Linked DNA regions of Homo sapiens: region 2 is linked to region 1. The links come from fine-mapping of genetic effects on gene expression. A gene starts in region 1. The other region holds a variant in brackets. All regions are shown on one strand. Distances are from middle to middle. Region 1 holds the start of SNX12 (sorting nexin 12). Region 2 has its middle 48 kb from the start of SNX12.

Region 1 (2,921 bases):
TTTTGCCTATAACCACTTCAAGTGGGCAAAAGATCCTGCAAACCAAGTACTCTATCTGCACATTCCATCCTTGCATTATGGGCTAAGCACTAGAGAGTAAAGTCCTCTATCATGCATGCTGGAAGAAGCCACTCCTGGGCAATTCTGAAATGTCATGTATTAAAGTAACTACAGACCAGGGTCAGAATCCAAAAGGGTAATCTAGGACAGAAAGGGCAAAAAGCCATTCATATACAAAGTACCTAAACGAGAGTCAATAAATACTGAAATAAACATTCTGGATACTTCAAATCTAAAGGATCCACATAGAATGAAAGCAGTGACTGACAAGGCACCAATCCCAGGGCCAGGCCAGGTTTCAAGGCGAGACAGCACGTAGTATCTGCGAAAACTTAAGCATAAAACATTTCTCTCCTTCAGATGCTGATCCGACACAAGTTAGGAAAGCGCTCGGTCTCAAGGAGACTCCCTTTCTTATTTCTGCTCCCACAAGCCTACTGTCTGCCTTTTCTGGAATCTACCTTCCCTTTAATTCAAGGCTTTGCTTTACTCCATTATCCCAGGGAGACCTCATTAGAAAGCAGCCGGCCTTCCTGCCCTCCCTCTTCAGACTTCTCACAACCTAGTTTAGTTATGGAGCTCAGCGATATATCGCCTTGGCTTTCCATCCCCCAGCCCTCTTCCATCCTCCCTCCCTTCCTTCAGTCGCTACAGCCGTGATTCCTATCTCCTTGAATTCCTCACTCTAATCTTTTTCCATCCACCCCACCCTATCCAGCCATGCTTCACTTCCTCATGGGTAGCTTTCCTGCATCCCCGTCCGATGTCTCCCTCAGGAGTTTTCTGCATCCTCCGGCCACAACTGAATCGGCAGACCTCGTTCCAAGCCTATTATACCCCTAACCCCCAAATGACCCCTAAGGCGTCTTCCCCGCCGTTAGTTGCCCCCGCGGTAGCCTCCCTCCCCCCTCCCGCTCGCGCCGCCCGGTCCTCCCTCAGCTGTCTCCCTCACCCCGTGACTCACCCGCATGCGAACCTCATAGGTGGTGAAGCGCGCGCGTCCCACGCCCACCGTCTGAGGATTAAAGATGTCGATCTCCAGGAAGTTACTTGGCGGCCCGTAAGCGTCGGTCAGGTCCTGCGGCTTCGAGTTAAGGCGCCGGGTATCAGCTACTGCCGTGTCCGACATCTTTCCGAAGGAGAGCCTGGGACCGGGGAAAGGGGGTGGGGGACAGAGGCCTGAGGCAGGAGCGCGCACGGCCCCTCCCGCTTGCAAAATAACTAGCCAACCCACAGGCGGCGGCGGCGCGCACGCGCGCCCACGCACGCACGCGCACGCCGCACGGGCCTGGGCCCCGGGCTCTGAATAGCGGCCGTGCTGACTGCTGCGCGCCCTGTAGAGTGGAGGCCATATTCAGGCTTCCGGGTGATGTTTGTGGCCACCCGGGAACCTGCATCCCCAATACGCAGTACCCAATACCCTGCCTAGCAGCACAGGCTGGCTCCGCCAATCGCGGCTCCTCAACCCAAGAAATTGTCTCGTACCGTGTATCAATCAACAGTGGGCACTGCCCCGTGAGCCAGGCTCCTACAGTGATAGGCCGAAGCCCAGTGACCTGAATAAGTCCTGGTTTTCCGCGAAAATAGAAGGGTGGTCTATGGAGGGTGGGGTTCCAACAATAGTACTGAGAACCTATAACGTAGCCGTCCCACCTGTGCCACTGATGGTTTCAGTTCACGCCACACACAATGGCGCACTCAGCACTACGTATGGCGCCAGGAAAGCAGCAAGCAACTAGGATGGGGTAAAGAAAGACATTTCTCTCTTACTTTTCAGGAAAATTGGGCATATCTTACTCCTTGTTGCCACACTCCAGGTGTACTCAATCTTACATTTATCAGCAAATTGAGGGTACTTATTTCATACCTTCTATTTCTACTCCGCAGAACTCCATACTTGGCACTGCTCTGAGGTTGCTTGCAACCCATAATGGAGATAGAATAAATGTTTACATGAGAATATCTATAGAAATATTAATATTTATATGACTAATTTACATATGCTCCACATTAAAGGGTAGACTGGGTGATGATTTCAGGTCATCCTTTCTCCACCTTTCCCCTGCCCTCCTCTACTCAAAAAATATTTCCCATATCACTGATGCCTGAAATTCTTTCAACAGAGTATGAGGCCCTACAATTTCACAATTGCTGTTTAATTCAATTTAACCAATATCCACTAAGCAAATACGTGCCAAGCACCATGCTAAACACTAAAATCCTGGAGTTAAATAAGAGTCCCTGCCCTCAAGGAGTTAACATTCTAGCAAGGGAGACAAGTAAACAAAACTAATATAATGCGACAAATACAAAATAAGTAAATGTTCAAAGCAGCACATAGGAAATGTATAACTGGAAAAATTAGGGGAGGTTCCCCTGGAGGAGGAAACATCTGAGTTTAACAGACATGAAAAGACATAAAGGACAAATAGGAGTGGAAATAGGGAAAGGTAATTTCTGGAATAAGAAACAGCATATGCAGGCCGGGCGCGGTGGCTCACACCTGTAATCCCAGCACTTTGGGAGGCCGAGGCAGGCAGATCACTTGAGGTCAAGAGTTCGAGATCAGCCTGGCCAACATGGTGAAACCCTGTCTCTATTAAAAATACAAAAATTAGCTGGGCATGGTGGCACACGCCTGTAATCCCAGCTACTCAGGAGGCTGAGGCAGGAGAATCGCTTGAACCCGGGAGGCAGAGGTTGCAGTGAGCTGAGATCATGCCACTGCACTCCATCCTGGGCAACAGAGCAAGACTCCATCAAAAAAAGAAAGAAAGAAAAGGAAAAGAAAAGAGAGAGAGAGAGAGAGCGAAAGAAAGAAAGAATACACAAAGTCCTTGCGATAAGAAACAGTGGAGCAT
Region 2 (2,921 bases), 48 kb before region 1:
GTATTCCAAAGCTGTCAAATTACTTCCCAGCTACCAATATCAGTTCCCAAATTTCACTGAGATCTAAACAAAACAATTTCAAAAAGTTTCCTTAGTTTACTGTCTAGAGAAATATATATATAATTAATATTATATTATATATATAATATAATATATATTATATATATAATATACTATATATTTTATATATATATATATTTTTTTTTTTTTTTTGAGATGGAGTCTCACTCTGTCGCCCAGGCTGGAGTGCAGTGGTGCGATCTCGGCTCACTGCAAGCTCCGCCACCCAGGTTCATGCCATTCTTCTGCCTCAGCCTCCCAAGTAGCTGTGAGCACAGGTACCCGCCACCATGCCCGGCTAATTTTTTGTATTTTTAGTTGAGACGGGGTTTCACCATGTTAGCCAGGATGGTCTCGATCTCTTGACCTCGTGATCTGCCCACCTTGGCCTCCCAAAGTGCTGGGATTACAGGAGTGAGCCACTGCACCTGGCCAGGAATAATATTTTTAACAATAATGACTCTAGTTATGTTCTGGATTCCAACTAATCACATAGATTCCAATATTATCTTTTTCTTATACAACTAATTGCACCCTATGCTTGAGCCAAAACTAGCCACCATTCCCTAAAACCTTCCAGCTTTTGGTCATGCCCATCCATTCAGCCTCTATCTCATCTTCTTACCTGAACTCTGGTCATCCCAAACCATGAACTGTGCTGCTATTTCCTCCCTGGCAAAGCTCTTCATTTGAGGCTCTTCTTTTCTTTCTTTCTTTCTTTCCTTTCTTTCCTTTCTTTTCTTTCTTCCTTTTTCTTTCTTTCTTTTCTTTCTGACAGTGTTCCTGCTCTATGTTGCCCAGGCTGGCCTCGAACTCCTGGGGCTTGAGTGGTCCTCCCACTTCAGCCTCCCAAGTAGCTGGAATTACAGGTGCACAAACCATGCCCAGCTGAGGCTGTTCATTTTCCTTTGCTCATATCTCCCCATAAGTCAAGATCAGGTTATCATCTTCTTGTATCTTCTTCACTGGATCCCCAAGGTATTATTTTACCATCTTACCTCAATAACCTCTTTCTTCAAAGTTCATAATACTCAATTTTATGACCCTCTCAATGTTAAATGTCAATCTCCAAGTCTCCCCCCAACATTCACTGAGGACTTCAGTACCAACTGTTTTCCTTTTCTCTTCTCATCCTGAAAGTCTTCATTATCCCCCTTGATGATATAACACCCAAACCTCATGGATCCTTGACATAACCTATTCTAACTTCTTCATCTCCATTCCCTTTCAATAATCCATTTCTTTTTTTTTTTTTTTAGGGGAAAGCACAAACTCAGTCTCCCACTACCACACATTATGCAGTCGAGTTTCCTGTATTTGGGGAAATCACAGGGGCCAACACACCCAGAGTGCAATGGATGGGCCTCACCCTGAGAAAACCACCTTTGTGATCATGGTATCTCCCCTGCCAGGTATCAATTATTTGTTGCTGGAGTGACACTTGGAATGGCTCTACTTCCAAAACCAAACACAGAGGGTCCACTCTCAGAACTACTTGTTGTTCTACTTCTCTTAAACCTTATACTCCCTGAATTTACCCTTAAACTGCCTCAAGGCCTTTAATTCATTAACCCTCTTGCCTATTTTCCAAAGCCATCATGTACTTTTGGGTTTTTTGGT[T/A]TTTTTTGGCGGGGGGTCTCAAATTCCTTTATTTAAAAAAAATTTATTTCCACAGGTTTTTGGGGAACAGGTGGTGTTTAGTTACATGAGTAAGTTCTTTAGTAGTGATTTATGAGATTTTGGTGTACTCATCACCCGAGCAGTATACACTGCACCATATTTGTAGTCTTTTATCCCTCACCCCCTTCCCACCCTTTCCCCCTGAGTCCCTAAAGTCCATTGCCATCATGTACTTTTGGACTGCATTTCCTTGTCTACTTAGGAAAGAGTCCATGGACAGTGAGACTTCAATAACAGTAACCAACACTCCCTATTCTCCTATCCCCTTGATTTTCCACCATCCCTATTATGTCAATTCTCACCCACAAATCAACCAAACTATTTATATTCTCCATTCCTGCTTACAAAGTACTGCTGAGTAAAATTATATACTCCTGGTCACCAGCTTCCCTTCCATCCTCCACTCCTAACAGAATGTTCTTTTTTTAAAGTTGGCAAATAAAAAGTATATATATTTATGGTATACAATATGATGTTTTGAAATATGTACACATTGTGGAATGGCTAAATTGAGCTAATAAGTAACATATGCATTACATCACATACTTTTTTGTAGTAAGAACACTTAAGAATGATCTTTTAAAACATAAATTAGTGGCCGGGTGCAGTGGCTCACGCCTGTAATCCCAGCACTTTGGGAGGCCAAGGCAGGCAGATCACGAGGTCAAGAGATCGAGACCATCCTGGCCAACATGGTGAAACCCCATCTCTACTAAAAATACAAAAATTAGCTGGGCGTGGTGGCATGCGCCTGTAATCCCAGCTACTCAGGAGGCTGAGGCAGGAGAATCACTTGAACCCGGGAGGCAGAGCTTGCAGTGAGCCAAGATCGGGCCACTGCACTCCAACCTGGTGACAGAGTGAGACTCCGTCTCAAAAAAAAAAAAAACAAAAAAAACCATAAATTAGGCCGGACTTCTGGAATGGCAGAGGAACTCAGCAAATCCTCTCTTCCTTAAAACAATGATAAAACTGGATTAAGAAGCAATTAAGAAAACCTGTGGAACCTTTGGCTAAGAACAGTGGGAGACTACGGGGCTGCTTCCATCTCCCCCACTCCCACTAGGTCCCCTGGAGCTGATTTTACAACGAAAGTCAAGGCAAGCCATAAAAAAATAACAATTTAGATGCTGGAGGGGAATTACTTCATAAAGAACGAGCACCAAAAAAGTCCTATGCCC

Evidence for each region. PIP is the estimated chance that this variant, and not a neighbour inherited with it, causes the effect.
Region 2: its variant is fine-mapped to the expression of SNX12 in blood mononuclear cells (TOPMed, PIP above 0.99).

Annotation. Positions count from the first base shown.
Region 1 is chrX:71,067,118-71,070,038 of GRCh38, forward strand. It overlaps SNX12 (sorting nexin 12), which reads right to left and starts at 1,217. Exons shown (of 4, transcript NM_013346.4): 1 at 1,025-1,217. The coding sequence starts at 1,189. RefSeq lists silencers at 1,180-1,373, 1,213-1,432.
Region 2 is chrX:71,018,959-71,021,879 of GRCh38, forward strand. It overlaps the pseudogene RNU1-56P. Among named protein-coding and RNA genes, the nearest start is that of SNX12, 48 kb to the right of the region's middle. The variant T/A (reference allele first, on the strand shown) is at 1,681.